Linked DNA regions of Homo sapiens: region 2 is linked to region 1. The links come from fine-mapping of genetic effects on gene expression. Tissue or cell type: cerebellum. Region 1 holds a variant in brackets; the other region holds the start of a gene. All regions are shown on one strand. Distances are from middle to middle.

Region 1 (8,000 bases):
GCACTCCAGCCTGGGTGACAAGAGCAAGACTCCATCTCAAACAAACAAACAAACAAACAATCCACACTTTTCCCTGAATGAGAGGCACTCATCCTCATTCTTTGGTGTCCCTGTGGCCCTGGATAGACTCTGCCCTCACACTTTGCCCTGGAAAAAACTCTTTTAACCAGGCTTGGCATGGTGGCTCACATCTGTAACCCAAGCACTTTGGGAGACTGAGGTGGGAGGATCACTTGAGCCCAGGAGTTTGAGATCAGCCTGGGCAAAATGGTGAGACCCCATCTCTACAAAATATAAAAAAAATTAGGGCCGGGCATGGTGGCTCATGCCTGTAATCCCAGAACTTTGGGAGGCCGAGGCAGGTGGATCACCTGAGGTCAGGAGTTTGTGACCAGCCTGGCCAACGGGTGAAACCCCATCTTAACTAAAAATACAAAAATTGGCCAGCGCAATGGCTCATGCCTGTAATCCCAGCACTTTGGGAGGCCAAGGAGGGTGGATCACGACATCAAGAGTTTGAGACCAGCCTGGCAAACATGGTGAAACCCCATCTCTACTAAAAATACAAAAATTAGCTGTGTGTGGTGGCGGGTATCTGTAGTCCCAGCTACTCGGGAGGCTGAGCTGAGATCGTGCCACTGCACACCAGCCTGGGCGACAAAGCGAGACTCTGTCTCAAAAAGAAAAAAAAAATTTAGCCAGGCATGGTGGTGGGTATCTGTAATCCCAGCTACTCGGGAGGCTGAGGCAAGAGAATTGCTTGAACCCAAGAAGGGGAGGTTGCAGTGAGCCGAGATCATGCCATTGCACTCTAACCTGGGTGACAAGAGTGAAACTCTGTCTAAAAAAAAAAAAAAAGAAAAAGAAATGAGCTGTGTCTGGACGTGTGGACGTGGCTCACTCACGCTTGTAATCCTGGCACTTTGGGAGGCCAAGGCAGGAGGATTACTTAAGGCCAAGCATTCAAGATCAACCTGGCCAACATAGTGAGATCCTGTCTTTATTATTTAAAAAAAAAAAAAATTTGCTGGGCATGGTGGTGCATACCTGTGGTCCCAGCTACTCAAGAGGCTGAGGTGTGAGGATTGCTGGAGCCCAGGGGATTGAGGCTGCAGTGATCCAAGGTCGCACCACTGCACTTAAGCCTGGGTGACAGAGAGAGGCCCTGTCTCAAAAAAAAAAAAAGAAAGAAATCAGAGCTCAGAGAGGTCGAGTCCCAGAGCAGGGACACTCAGCAGTGGCTGGTCACTGCCAAATTCCCACTGGGGACTGCAGAACCCCACAGCCGTCAGCTTCTCAACCCCTGGGTGGGTCACAGCCTTGGAGTCAGGTCTCTCAGGAAAAGGACAAAATAGGGAGGGAAGATGGGACATTTTAGGAAGTAGGGAAATTTACACCCAGGCCATTGTGTGGGGGGATTGGGAGTTGAATCCACAATATTGGGCTAATCTTATCAGCAAAATACAGCCCAGGCAGGATGGGGGTGGGGGTTGTGGGGGGAGAGTGGGGGAGGGAGTGTGAGTAGGGGTGGGGGTGGGTGGAGCAGCAGCATAGTCTGGGGACCTTTCCATGGCCCAAGTCGGGAGTGGTGAGTGGAGGAGGTCACGTGGGGAGCGTTTGTTTCCTGGGCAAAAGGAAATCCACAGAATGTGGAGGGTTAATTGCCCAACGAGCTTTGAAACCCTGAACAAGGCCAGGCATGGTGGCTCACGCCTGTAATCCCAGCACTTTGGGAGGCTGAGGCGGGCGGATCACGAGGTCAGGAGATCAAGACCATCCTGGCTAACACGGTGACACCCCGTCTCTACTAAAAATACAAAAAAAATTAGCCCAGCGTGGTGGTGGGCGCCTGTAGTCCCAGCTACTTGGGAGGCTGAGGCAGGAGAATCACTTGAATCCAGGAGGTGGAGGTTGCAATGAGCTGAGATCGCACCATTGCACTCCAGCCTGGGCAACAGAGCAAGACTCCATCTCAAAAAACAAACAAACCAACCACAAAAAAAACAAAAACCCCTGAAAAAGTCCAGTAATTACCCTAGGCCTCACCGGGGCTGTTGGTGAGGATGAAATAGCTTAGTAGTTGCAAAGCGGCTTTGGCTTTTTTGCAAGCCAGGGCCACAGAAGTGAAGGCCCACCCTGCTCCCGGGGACACTTAGCAACATATAGAGACTTTTTTTTTCTTTTGAGACAGAGTCTGGCTCTGTTGCCCAGGCTGGAGTTGCATCATCTTGGCTCACTGCAGCCTTGACATCCCAGGCTCAAGCGATCCTCCTGCCTCAGCCTCCCAAGTAGCTGCGACTACAGGCGTGTGCCACCATGCCCAGCTAATTATTAAATTTTTTGTAGAGATGGAGGTCTCCCTATGTTGCCCAGGCTGGTCTTGACCTCCTGGGCTGAAGCAATCCTCCCCCTTCGACCTCCCAAAGTGCTGGGATTACAGGCATGAGCCACCATGCCCAGCCTGGAAACATTTTTAATTGTCACAACTTGGGAGGGTGTTACTTGCATTTATGGGTGGGGGCCAGGGATGCCGTTTAATATCCTACAATGCAGCTGGGCGCCGTGTCTCATGTCTGTAATTCCAGCACTTTGGGAGGCCGAGGCGGGTGGATTTCTTCAGGTCAGGAGTTCAAGACCAGCCTGAACAACATGGTGAAACACCGTTTCTACTAAAAATACAAAAATTAGCCGGACATGATGGCGGGTGCCTGTAATCCCAGCTACTCGGGAGGCTGAGGCAGGATAATCACTTGAACCCGGGAGACGGAGTTTGCAGTGAGCTGAAATCGCACCACTGCACTCCAGCCTGGGAGACAGAGTGAGACTCCATCTCAAAAAAACAAACAAAAAAAACCCAAAACAAAAAACAAAATCCTACAATGCACAGGATGGTCCCCACCCAGAGAACCATCCAGCCCAAACCACCAATGCTGCTGAGGCTGAGACCCTGCCCTAGACCTTGGGAGTGAGGAACGGGTGCTCCAGGCAGCAGGCAGAGCTTGGGCAAAGGCCTTGAGGCAAAAAGGAACTTGGGATCAGTAAAGGTGGAGGTGGTGAGCAAGGGGAAGTGAGGGGGCAAGAGGGCCAGGGGGTCTGTGGCAGGGGAGGTATTTGGGGACCCTTCCCTGGGACAGCAGTAGGAACCATGGAAGTGGAGGCCTGGTTTTATTTATTTATTTATTTTTGAGACAGACTCTTGCTCTGTCGCCCAGGCTAGAGTGCAGTAGCGTGATCTCAGCTCACTGCAACCTCCACCTCCTGGGTTCAAGCGATTTTCCTGCCTCAGCCTCCTGTGTAGCTGGGACTATAGGCACGACCCACCACCCCCCGCTAATTTTTTTTATTTTGAGACAGAGTCTCGCTCTATTGCCCAGGCAGGAGTGCAGTGGCGGGATCTCGGCTCACTGCAACATCCGCCTCTCGGGTTCAAGCGATTCTCGTGCCTCAGCCTCCTGAGTAACTGGGACTACAGGTGCATGCCACCACGCCAGGCTAATTTTTTGTATTTTTAGTAGAGACAGGGTTTCACCGTGTTCGCCAGGATGGTCTGGATCTCTTGACCTTGTGATCCAACAACCTTGGCCTCCCAAAGTGCTGGGATTACAGGCATGAACCACCACGCCCAGCCATTTTTTTGTATTTTTAGTAGAGATGGGGTTCACCATGTTGGCCAGGTTGGTCTTGAACTGAGCTCAAGTGATCCACCTGCCTCGGCCTCCCAAAGTTCTGGGATTACAGGCGTGAGCCACTGTGCCTGGCCAGAGGGTTTTTTTTTTTTTTAAATCCCACTGACCGTCTGGGCTGGGGACTGTGGGACCTTAGGATAGTACAGAAATCTGGGACAAGGGACTCCTGGCTCC[A/G]TTACCACAAACAGGAGTTGGAGTTGCAGAGACAATGGCCGGGATTCCGGGAGAACTTGGAGGAAGTAAGATAACAGAGAAGGAAGGGACTATGGCATCTTTGAGGATCGAATAAGGTAGGTGAAGGGTCCGTCGGGATTGCAGCCCTCAATTGTGGAGAAGCAGAGAGACTCTCTGGGGGAGGGGTTCCCAGAGCTGGGTACTGCAGAATGAATAAGAGTTTGGGGAATCGGGCCAGGTGTGATGGCTCATGCCTGTAATCCCAGCACTTTAGGAGCCCAAGGTGGGTAGATCCCTTGAGGTCAGGAGTTTGAGGCCAGCCTGGCCAACATGATGAAACCCCTGTCTCCACTAAAAATACAAAAATTAGCCAGGTGTGGTGGTGTAGTACTGTAATCCCAGCTACTCGGGAGGCTGAGGCAGGAGAATCACTTGAACCTGGAAGGCAGAAGTTGCAGTGAGCCAAGATCGTGCCACTCTACTCCAGCCTGGGCGACAGAGCAAAACTCTGTCTCAAAAAAAAAAAAAAAAAAGAGCCGGGGGTGGTGGCTCATGCCTGTAATCCCAGCACTTTGGGAGGCCAAGGCAGGCAGATCACCTGGGGTCGAGAGTTCGAGACTAGCCTGACCAACATGGAGAAACCCCGTCTTTACTAAAAATACAAAATTAGCCGGGCATGGTGGCGCAAGCCTGTAGTCCCAGCTACTTGGGAGGCTGAGGCAGGAGAATCGCTTGAACCCGGGAGGCGGAGGTTGCGGTGAGCCGAGACTGCGCCATCGCACTCCAGCCTGGGAAACAAGAGCGAAACTCCGTCTCAAAAAAAAAAAAAAAAAAAAAAAAAAGAGAGAGAGAGAGAGAATCTGGGGGATGAAGCAGGGGGAAACATTCTGACAATGCATGGCCTGTGTGTGTGTACAGATCCCAGTTTAAATCCCAGCCCAGCATTTTCTGCAGGCGGGAAGGGAAGCAAGACAAGGTTACTCTCAGTTACAGCCTCAGTTTCCTCACTGGATCCCCAGGAATCAGGAGAGGCTCTAGGGAGGAGATGAGAATACAACACCTGGGAAACGGTGAGCCCTGATGAGGGTGCATAGTTCTTATGTTGATCCCAGCAGAGACAAGGGCTGGGAAGAACTGGGGTGGTGCCTCCCCGAACTCCGTGGGCTCCTGAAAACGTCCTGGAGCAGGGAAGGGAGGTGTCATCGTCAACGGGGTGTCCACTCTCACCTGCAGGGGCGGCCCCAACGCTTGGGTACTAAAACGATGATACTCCAGGAACTCGAGAGTCAGGTGTGCTCTCCCTCAAAGGAAGTGTTTATTTTTTGGAGCTCAAAGACCCCAGAAAAAAGCAACCCCCCCCGCAAAAAAAACCCATAACAACAGGCAGCACATGCCCCCCACACCGCACCCCATGCCCAATCTCAGGGTGGGAGACAAGAGGGGGGACTCATTGTCCGGAGGGAGGCTCTGGAGGGAGACAGCCCTGGGTCAACCCGACTGTGTCCCCACACCCAGGACTTCCCCATGGCCCCTCCAGACCTGCTCCAGAGGCCCTTCTCCGGCTACCCCGTGCTCTCCCCGCTAACCGTGTTGCCCCATGACCCGCTCAGAACTGATGAGATCAAGGGAATGTTCAAGCGAAAAGCCGAGCAGGACGGACCTTCCAAGATGTGCCTAAAGGACCAGAAGAGGGACTCAGGGCAGACTGGAGGCAGCAGACACTGGCCCCGCTCCAAGCCCGGCCCCAAGCCCCGCCCCCATCGCTAGACCCGCCCCACCCATCCATAAGCCCCTCCCCTCCATCGATAGACCCGCCCCCATTGATAGCCCCGCCCCATACAGCTATCAGCCCGTCCCCGATCCAGGGCATCCTTCTCACTGGATTCTCCCTCCTTCCCCAAGGCCCCTCACCTCTGCGCCCAGTCCCTTCCCCTGCAGCCTCTCTCTCTAGACTTCGGAGCCTCTGCTTCCCCGCCCCGCTTCCCCAGCTTTCTTCTCCCTCCCGGGGCCGCCCCCTCCTCACTGACCAGCTTCCTGGGATCTCACTGCAGCAGAGCGCTGAGGCCCAGCAGCACAATCAGCAGCTGGGGCGCCGCAGCGGAGCTGGAGTCCTGGGAGCTGGGGTAGTACTTCTTGTCCGCGATTCTCACGCTTAAGACCTGGTTTTCTCTTCTGCGGTACAGATGGCAAATCAGGCATCTGCTCGTCCTGGCTCCTGCCGCCCTCCCTGTAAGCCCACCGCCCCCGGGAGTTCCCCCCGCACCGCCCCAATCCAAGTCACCGGGGAGGGAATGGACAGCGGCCACCCATGGCTCTGTGACCCTAGGGGCTAAGTTATCCTTTTGTGGGACTCAAACTTTATCCCTTGGGGCAATGGGGATTTTGGGAGCAAAGGAGATCCTGGGTCTTGGGCTAGGGATGTGGGGGTGAGAGGAATGTGGCAGGTGGAGGGTAGCGGGGGAAGGCTATCTCTGACCTCAGTCGCTCCACCTCTGCAGACGCGTCCTGAAGCTTATGGTTTAATGTAGTGATCTCTCCTGGTAGGGTGGGAGGACAGAAACAGGGGGCGGGTCAGCATGTGGCCATGCTGGGGCCCTGCTCCACTCTGGGACAGAACCTCCCCCTTACCCCAACCTCCAGCCCTGGTCTCCCTGCCCCCACCCCCTCTTCCATACCTGACTCACCCCTCCCCGGCCCTCTCCCTTCTCCCTTTCTCACCCTCAAGCTCCTCCACTTTCTTTTGTCCTTGGGCCTTCTCTGCATCCAGGGAAGCCATTAGGGCCATCTAAGAAGAGTTAGAATCTGGGGTTTTGGCCTGGGGAGTTTGGCTGCTGCCCCTGGGACCTGGGCCTCCTCCCTAGGTCCTGGGGACAGAGGGGCTTAAATGCAAACCCCTTTCAGGTTTTCTTCCAACCCTCTCTGCACCATGGTCTCCAACCTTAAAGAACAGCCACAACCACACACTCTCCCAGGGCCACCCATAAGCATGTGGGTCCTCAAAATGGGAGTTTTGAGGCCACCCCACGTGGAAACTTGGAGGCTATCGATAACCAAAGTTTAGTGGACATTTCCAGATTGCCTGAGCAATGGCCCAAGAAAAGTTAGAGGGCCCTACCAAATCCAGAATGCAGTGGGATTTCCCCGCCCAAGTGACATGCCCAGCGAGAGTTTCAAGATCCCCCATATCAGGACCCAGGTGAATATTTCAGTTTCTTAGGGATGAAGTGAAAATTTCAAAAGCCCCCTTTTTCAGGGTCTGGTGAGGTCCCCCTTCAACCCTGAATAGGGATTTCTACTCCCCCAGGACTGGTGCCCACGAGGAGTTTCAAGGCCCCCGACACCAGTGCCCTGGAAAGAATTTATAAATTCACCTAAGTCCCAGGGGGATACTGAGGTCCCCGATTTGGGGGATCTGGAGAGTTTTAACACCCTGCCCCTACACCAGTGCCCTGGACTGGGTTAGGGGCCCACAAACCCTGGTAGGGGAACCTAGGTCCCTTGATGTGGGGGCCCAGGAGCAGTTTCAGGACCTCCCCTGCATCTCCCTGGAGACCCACCCTGGGTCAGATTTCTGGGGAGAGATTCTTGTCCCTCCCACCGCCTAGTACTAGGCCATCCAAAGGAGTTGAGGAGCTTACCACAGTGTGGTTGCAGGTGGCGGCCTGGGCCTCCACATCCTGAAAGCCCTTCTGGGCCTCGGTCAGCTCTTGTTGCAGGAGATGGGTGACATTGCGACACTCCATCACTGCCCGAAGGCCGTCCCGGCAGGCCTCGCTGTTGGCCTTGATGGTGAAGATAATCAAGGGCACCCCCAGAATCACGATGATCAGGAGCACCAGAATTCCTATCCCCAGCAGAAGCTTACAGCGCTTATCCCCGTCTTCCATGGGCACTCTGCAATAGTCATACGAAGTAGATGCCATCCAGATCTCCCCTTTAGAGTCTGGCCTGGAGTTAGGGGAGGGTGCTGGAATCTTCTACGGGCCACCCCTTTATTAGCATAGGAAACGTCCTGACCAATAGCAAGTTCCAGGAAGTGCTCTGACCAGCAGCTCTTGCATGAGGCACCTACAGGCAGAGGATTAATTAGGTTTTCAGTTTCAGTTTCCCAGAAAGGAGGTGGGCTTTTTTTTCACCCTG
Region 2 (8,000 bases), 67 kb before region 1:
CGTGATGGGGCTGATACGTCGCACGCCCTGATGGTGGGCAAAGACCGGGCCCAGCATGAGCTCAGAGGGGCCACCTCTGCCTTCTGCACCCCTCCCTATCCTCAGAACTCAATTTCCCTCCATCATGCGGAGGTGACCCTCTCAGGTCACCCACCTAGGGCACTGTTCCCAGTCCCTCAAATCCAACTTCCACCTCTCCCCCTGGGGAGCACACAGAGCCCGCCTCGGTTTGGCATACCCTCTTTGATGAAACAATCCTGTTTCACACCTCTCTGCCTTTGCTCCTGCAGTGCCCCCCACCATTTACCTTTGTCCTGTCTCCATGACCCTGGACTCAGCCCCCAACTGACCCTGAACTGGGGGCGTGGCTCCTCCACGGCTTCCCCAGGTGAGTCCAGCGTCCCCCACTTATATGCCAGCTCAGCCCCTCTCCGCTTCCATTCCTCTAGGAACAGCGTCGACCAGATCACGTTGAAGAGGGCAAAGACCACGCAGGAAACATCCCGGCTTGTCTGTGAGTGGCAGAGAAGAGTTGAGTCATTGTTTGTGCCAGTCCAGAAAGGAGGGCGCCTCTGGATCCCCCAGACCTTGCAGGGTCCCTGCCCAGTACCTGATCAGCCTCTGTGAATGTGTACAGGACAGACCCGAAGACAGCTGGGTATACCATAGCCGACGTGTAGAAGCCCAGCCAGGCGAAGTACATGGCAATTTTCACACCAAAGTAATCACAGATGTCATCTGCCAGGGGACAAGTGGGTCTCAGTCACCCCCTGCCTGTCTGCTGGGACTCCCTCCCACCCCCCAGCCCAGGCAGCACCTAGAGGCTGGTTTTCACACACGGCCTGCACCCATGACTTCATGAGGCGGTTCAGAATACGCTGCTCGTGGACAGGGAACACCTGCTGGATGATCCCACGTGCTGCCAGCTCCGGGACTGTGGAGGGAGGAGCACAGGTGATCCCCGCCCCTCCACCTGTGCCTAGCCTGGCTAGCCCCTCTTTGTCTGAAACCCAAGTCACAGCTTTTTGCCTGCTCTTAAACCTCTAGAGCTCTTTCCAGGGGAGAAGTTCTAGACGGATAGAAGATCTGATTCTCCTTCAGAAATTGTAGGTGCAGGGGCAGGCGGGGAGAATGTAAAGGAACTGGGAGAGTGGGGTTCTGGTGAGGAACCATGTTTTTTTTTTTTTTTGAGACAGTCTCACTCTGTCGCCCAGGCTGGAGTGCAGTGGCGTGATCTCCGCTCACCGCAACCTTCAAGCGATTATCGTGCCTCAGCCTCCGGAGTAGCTGGGATTATAGGCGCCCACCACCACGCCCAGCTAATTTTTGTATTTTAGTAGAGACGGGGTTTCGCCATGTTGGCCAGGCTGGTCTCAAACTCCTGACCTCAAGTGATCCACCTGCCTCGGCCTCTCAAAGTGCTGAGATTACAGGTGTGAGCCACCGCGCCCGGCTTTTTTTTTTTTTTTTTTTTTTTAGACGGGGTCTAGCTGTGTCACCAGGCTGGAGTGCAGTAGTGCGATCTCAGCTCACTGCAACCTCTGCCTCCCGGGTTCAAGCGATTCTCCTGCCTCAGCCTCCCGAGTAGCTGGGACTACAGGCGCGCGCCAACCACACTTGGCTAATTTTTGTATTTTTAGTAGAGATGGGGGTTTCACCATGTTGGCCAGGATGGTCTCGATCTCCTGACCTCGTGATACGCCCGCCTCAGCCTCCCAAAGTGCTGAGATTACAGGCGTCAGCCACCGCGCCCGGCCTTATTTTTTACTTTATTTATTTATTTGTTTGAGACAGGGTCTCGCTCTGTCACCCAGGCTGGACAGAATGCAGTGGCGCTACCATGGCTCACTGCAACCTCGAACTCCTGGGCTCAAGTGATGCTACCGCCTGGACCTCCCAAAGTACTGGGAGCCACTGCGCCTGTTCCCCTGCTTTAAATAAAGCTCAGTTTGTGGACCCGAACGTCTGAGGAATGGTAAAAACTTGCTGTCGGAAGGTGAACTTGGGTGCCTAGTTTCCTGGAGGGGAATCCAACGCCCAGAGCCGCACCACTCTGTAAGTGGAGTGCTGTCCATGGTTCCTGCCTCCACTTTATCCCAAACCCAGAAAAGGGCCTCTCCTGGACCCACCTCCCAGAAATAAGCCCCACCCTTTGGCCAAAGCCTCGCCCCCTCAGCTCATTGGTTCCCAACCCTTTGCCAACCCCTAACTGGTTGGACATAAGCCCTGACCTCCTGTCCTGATAAGCTGTCCTCTCAGAGCTCCACCCAACTCAGGAGATAAGCTCCACCCTTTTGCTAAGGCCACACCCCTTTAGCTCATTGGTTTCCTAACTCTTTGCCAACCCCTGACTGGTTGGATCTGGGCCCCGCCCTCCTGCTCCTATAAGCTGTCTTTGAAGAGCTCCACCCAACTCTCTGCCTGTGATTGGTGTTGACCCCGCCCTGCTCACTGATTGGCTGGTCCTCCAGGAAGCGCACGTTGTGGAGTGCTTCTCCCTGCTTGGCACGCAAATTCTGCAGCCAGAAGCGGATGATGCTCTGGCGTTCCTGCGAGGAAGAGGGCGTGAGCTCAGGGAACTCATAGGCACAGGATGCATGCGGGGGCCCAGAGCCGGCCTCACCTGGGAGGTGAAGAAGCGTAGCTCGCTCTCCACATTCTCATAGATAAAGTCCTCCTCGCAGGAGAAGCCGCGGGTGCCCCCGCCAAACTCGGCCTTCACTGCTTTGCGCAGACCCAGCTCGTCGGCCCCTCGGAGTAGGCTGTGAAGAAGGCGGAGGAGGTGGGCTCACAGGGAGGCCCCGGCCCACCATCCTGGAGCTGAGGATGGTGCACCTGGCAGCCTTTGGGACAAACGCAGGGCGGCTGGATAGCATGGTTGGCACTTGGTAGAGCGGGGAGTCGGGTGGCAGGCTCAGCGAGAGGCCAGGGACAGGGGACTCGCCTCTCATACGTGGCGGTGACAAAGAAGGCGTAGGCACGCGTGTGGCGGTGGTGGCGGACTTGCACGATGAGCTCGGGAATGCCCACGCGGATGTGGTTCAGCAGCCATAGCAGCGTGTGGTCATCGGTCGTGTCTGCCAAGGGGCACAGGGACCGATGGCTCCTGCCACGAGGGGGCCCAAGGCCTCCTACGTATTCCCGTTCTGGGAAGCCGAGCTCAGGAGAGCCGCATCTGGGCACTGGGCGGGCGGGCGGGCGGGCTTGGGTACCTGGGAAGGTCATCAGCACGTCGCAGTTCTCTGTAGGCACCGTCTTCATCCACGCCTTGTGGGACACCAGGTAGCGACCAGCCTGCAGGAGCCGCTTTCCGAAAAGCTTATCTAGGGGGCGGCGTAGCAGGCCCGGGTCAGGCCACTCTGGGATCCGGACCCGGCCTCCAGTCTTGGCTCCTCCTGCCCCCGCCAGGGCTCCTCACCACTCCACCTGGCATTCAAGGCCCCGGGAGCTCTGGGCTTGGCTTATTTTCCTCCCTCCACGTCCTTGTACCAGCCAGGCCTTCCTCCAGAAATGCCCTTCCCCCCAGATCCTCCCTTACAAATCTTACTCATTCTTGAGGCCCAGCTCCGCCTCCAAAACCACAATCGATGGGGCGCTCACTAGCAGCCCTGAGCGCTTCACCACATTATGACAGCGCCGTCCTTGCAGCAGCCCCAGGGACTAGGTGCGGTTCTTACCCCCATTTCACAGGTGAGGAAACTGAGGCCCAGAGCGTTTAAGTCACGCGCCCAAGGTCACACAGTCAAGCTGGGATTTGAACCCAGGACCGTATGATTCTGTATTCTTCGCGGAGAGGCTCTCTCAAGCACATCCCTGGCCCGCCGCGATCCCGCAGCCCGGGGGTGGCAGGGCGCAGCCCAAGCCTGGGGCTCTCGGAGGGGCGTGTCCGCGTCTCCGCGCCGGGACCCCAGCCCGAAGCACCGTCCCAGCCCCGCCCGCCGGGCCGCAGCCGCAGTGCCGGGAGGAGCCGGCCCCTCGTCCAGACACCACGCCAGGTTACGTTTGACCCTGATCCTCCTCCCCGTGTAGTTGACGCGGGCTCCCCAGGCACCTGCAACCCTGTCTGGTCCAGCCGCCGCACACATACCCAGAACTCCGGACGCCGGGGCTGCAGGCTCGCCCTCCGGCGGGGGCCTCTTGCCACGCTCGCCCTCCAGGGACGTGCCCCCGGCGCCGGAGGCGGCCTCGGCCATGGCGAGGACAGGTCAGGTCAGGGGCTACGGACGGCCCGGGCGACGGGGAGCCGCGGGCTCATGGGGCCGGTGCAGCCGCGGAGCGCGCGGGAGGAGGAGACAAAGGCCGCGCCCGCCCGCGCCGGCCTCGGTCCTCGCTCGCCCGAGCGCTGCTTCTCGTCCCCGCCCGAGCCGAACCTCGATTCTCCTTCCCGGCCCGATGCACGTCACTCTAGGGTTCTCAGCTGAGTTCGCCCGCCTAGTTCTTTGGTTCGCGTCTCCGCCCGTGTTGTTTTCTGGGTTTCCTTCTCGCCCGCCTACCTCGCTCCCTGCTGCTGGTCCCCGCCCGCACTGATGGTGCATTCTCCAACTTGTCCCCACCCATGCTTTCTTCTGGTCCCCGCCTCGGAGCCTCAGTTTCCCCATCTGCAAACTCCGGACCCTGGAGACGCTGTTTGGAATGTGAGATGGGCGTAAGTTGACTAAGGGAGGACGTGGGAGGGGCGGGCCGGTTGGGGAAGATTCCTGGTGACAATAACTTCAACCACCCCAGTAGGGCTGTGATACATAATTACAGCAAGCCCTGCTTAGGAACTTTGCACGCACCATTTGGCTGCCTAGAACACTCCTCATGCACTCTTCGTCCGGTTAACACCGACTCCCTTCAGGATGTAACCTCGGAGAGGATCCCATAGAGTTGTCAAGTTTAGCAAATAAAAATACAGTCCGTCTAGTTAAATGTAAATTTCAGATAAAAGAATAAATGTTAGCTGGGCGGGGCGCACCTGTAATCCCAGCTACTTGGGAGGCTGAGGCAGGAGAATCGCTTGTGCTCAGGAGGTCAAGGCTGCAGTGAGCTGAGATCACACCCACTGCACTGCATCCTGGGCGACAGAACGAGACCCTGTCTCAAATACATATATATACATACATACATAAATGTTTCTATGTCCTATGTCTACATGGGACATACTAGTACTAAAAAATTATTCATTGTTTATTTGAAATTCACATTTAGCTGGGCGACCTGGGTTTTACCTGGCATTTGGCCAACCCCTGACTATTCTGAGTAGCTCAGTCTGTTAGACTGAAAGCCCAGCGAGGGTAGGAACGAGGGGCCAGGTCTGGTTCTCAATGCGAGCACACAGTAGGCGCTTGCTGTACGCTTGTTACAGATGTAACAACTAGCTTGTTACAGATGTAATAACTAGCTTGTTACAGATGTAACAACTAGAGAATGGCAGATGAAATATAAATATGTCATCATTTGTTCCTATTTTACAACTTAAAATATTAAAGCCTCGGCCGGGCGCAGTGGCTCACGCCTGTAATCCCAGCATTTTGGGAGGCCAAGGCGGGTAGATCACCTGAGGCAAGGAGTTCGAGACCAGCCTGACCAACATGGCCAAACCCTGTCTCTATTAAAAATACAAAAAATTAGCCAGGCATGGTGGCGCACGCCTGTAGTCCCAGCTACTTGGGAGTCTGAGGCAGGAGAATCGCTTGAACCTGGGAGGCGGAGGTTGCAGTGAGTCTAGATCGCGCCACTGAACTCCAGCCTGGGCGACAGAGCGAGACCCCGTCTCAAAAAAAAAAAAAAAAAAAAAAAAAAGCTTGGGCAACGTAGTGAGATCCCCGTCTCCACCAAAAAAACGAAAACAAAACAAACAAACAAAAACAACAAACAAAAAGAAACACCGAAAAGTTAGACTGGCATGGTGGCTCGCGCCTGTGGTTCCAGCTACTCAGGAGGCTGAGGCGGGCGGATCCCTTGAGCCCAAAAGTTGGAGGTTGCAAGAGCCGTGATCGCGCCACTGCACTCCAGCCTGGGCGACAGAGTGAGACCCTGTCTCAAAAATAAAATAAAATAAAATAATAAAGTAAATAAAAATATTGAGCAGGGCGAGGTAAGGGGGTATTAGAACTCTATTCTGTCAGACAGATTTTTCTTAACACGCAAGTGCGCCGCCCGCCCGCTCTGATCCAGAACCAGAGAATCCGCCATGCGAAGGCGCTCCCGGAGACCCCGCCCAGCCAGTGCCTGGAATTCCACCATCAGCGCTTTATTCCGAGTTTCAGTGCTGTCCTGGGTTAACCTGAAAGCAATCTCCGAGGCTCCCCTTTCTGGCTTTCGGGGAGCCAGAGACTGACCGGACACTTGGCTCTGCAGGTGCAGACCTGGACCAGAGAGACAGAGAGCCAAGGAAGTCCACAGTGGAGAGAGGGCTGTGCTGGGGGTTCCAGGAAGACTTCCTGGAGGAGGGGATCTTGGAGCTAGGCCTTGAAGACGAGTTTGTCAAATGAGGAAGGGCATCCGAAGCCGAGGGAACGGCAGAAGGGAACGCTGGGGAGGGGAGAGAATCTGGAGAGTTCCGGAAAAAGCAAGTAGGACTCTTTCCAGAAGTTCGGGCAAGATTTTCCCTGGATCAGGGCGTGGGTTCTCCAGTACTCGTCCCTCCCGGTCACCGAGATGCTCTGAGTTTCCGGTCTGAACCTGAACGTAAAGAGGTGTAGTCCCTCCTTTCTTGAACGGGAAAACTGAACGCACATAGGTCCTTGCCACGCCTAAGGCTGCGGAGTGAGCAGATGGAAAATGCGGGACTCAAAACCTCCCCTCGCTGTAATTTGCACTGCCCTGTGCCAAACTCTGTCCTTTCTTCCATTCCTTATTCCTATTGTCAGCCTCGCTGCGCTAGGACCCTAAAAATTTGGTCTCATGTTGCCCGGGGAACAACATTTCGCTACACCTACCTCCATACCGCCTCCCGCTCCCGCTCTCCCTTGCACCAGCCAATGGAAGCGAGTATCTTCAGACGGTGGGCAGGACGTATCCTAAGATACCCAATGGTGGTCGAGAATAGTTGAGCACTTTACTAGTCAAGCCGCGGAGTGGGCGGGGCCCCCTGCCCAGACTTGAAGCCACACAGGCAGGTCGGGCAGGCGGGTCGCAGGTTGTAAATCCATGTGGCGGGGGCTTTGGACCCTGGCGGCCCAAGCGGCACGTGGGCCTCGCAGGTGGGGCTACAGGGGAAGGGGTGCGACAGCTTGGGGTGCTGCTTGGACCCCAGACCCACTCCCTGGGTTTTAGGGGCCCAATTCCCTGCGGCAGAGCAATCATTCGCGTTCTTCCGTGCCTCAATCGTTCATGACCCTTGCGGCAGAGCCCATATCTGGGTCTCCTTCTGGCCTCACAGTCCCTAATCCGGTCACCCTTCGGCCTTCAGAACATCCAATTTGTGCATCCCCCAGCCGCAGAACCCCCCCACCTGGAGCATCTCGCGATCATCGAGCCCTCGGTCTACTTGACACTGAGGCTGAGCCTCCCAGGTGCGCTGATTCGCCTCCCCTCCGGTTCCAGATTGTGCACGCGCCGGAGCAGCGGCGCACCAGCCCCCGGCTCCGGCGCCACCATCTTCGCGCTAAGCTCTGGCCAAGGCCGCTGCGGCATCGCAGTGATCCGGACCAGCGGCCCCGCCAGCGGCCACGCCCTCCGAATTCTCACAGCACCCCGAGACCTGCCCCTTGCTCGCCACGCCAGCCTGCGCCTGCTCAGCGATCCCCGCTCCGGGGAGCCTCTGGACCGCGCACTGGTGCTCTGGTTCCCAGGTGAGGGTCCCCAGGTTCCGAGCCTCCTGTAGGTCCCATGACTCAGTTTCCCCCTTCCAAGGGTTTGCACTGGCTGTGCTGTCCTCCTGTCACCTGTCTGTCACATTAGGTCCCCAGAGTTTCACCGGTGAGGACTGCGTGGAGTTCCACGTGCATGGAGGCCCGGCAGTGGTGAGCGGCGTCCTGCAGGCCTTGGGTGAGTTGCAGCGTTGGGTGAGATGC

What was found. PIP is the estimated chance that this variant, and not a neighbour inherited with it, causes the effect.
Region 2: it holds the start of ANO8, and the variant in region 1 is fine-mapped to the expression of ANO8 in cerebellum (GTEx, PIP above 0.99).

What each region holds. Positions count from the first base shown.
Region 1 is chr19:17,397,793-17,405,792 of GRCh38, forward strand. BST2 (bone marrow stromal cell antigen 2) reads right to left here and starts at 7,838. Exons shown (of 5, transcript NM_004335.4): 1 at 7,499-7,838; 2 at 6,579-6,645; 3 at 6,337-6,397; 4 at 5,888-6,032; 5 at 5,147-5,534. The coding sequence starts at 7,783. The coding sequence ends at 5,903. It overlaps BISPR (BST2 interferon stimulated positive regulator), which reads left to right and starts at 7,894. Exons shown (of 4, transcript NR_130766.1): 1 at 7,894-7,979. It also overlaps a transcript of MVB12A not described here. RefSeq lists a cis regulatory region at 1,184-1,748, a silencer at 5,325-5,493 and enhancers at 7,017-7,755, 7,740-7,799, 7,870-8,000. The variant A/G (reference allele first, on the strand shown) is at 3,861.
Region 2 is chr19:17,330,478-17,338,477 of GRCh38, forward strand. It overlaps ANO8 (anoctamin 8), which reads right to left and starts at 4,378. Exons shown (of 18, transcript NM_020959.3): 1 at 4,088-4,378; 2 at 3,213-3,323; 3 at 2,945-3,077; 4 at 2,624-2,762; 5 at 2,453-2,549; 6 at 818-934; 7 at 611-738; 8 at 351-512; 9 at 1-27. The coding sequence starts at 4,193. It overlaps GTPBP3 (GTP binding protein 3, mitochondrial), which reads left to right and starts at 7,076. Exons shown (of 9, transcript NM_032620.4): 1 at 7,076-7,187; 2 at 7,531-7,778; 3 at 7,888-7,974. The coding sequence starts at 7,135. RefSeq lists a silencer at 3,881-4,320 and enhancers at 6,045-6,716, 6,717-7,388, 7,389-8,000.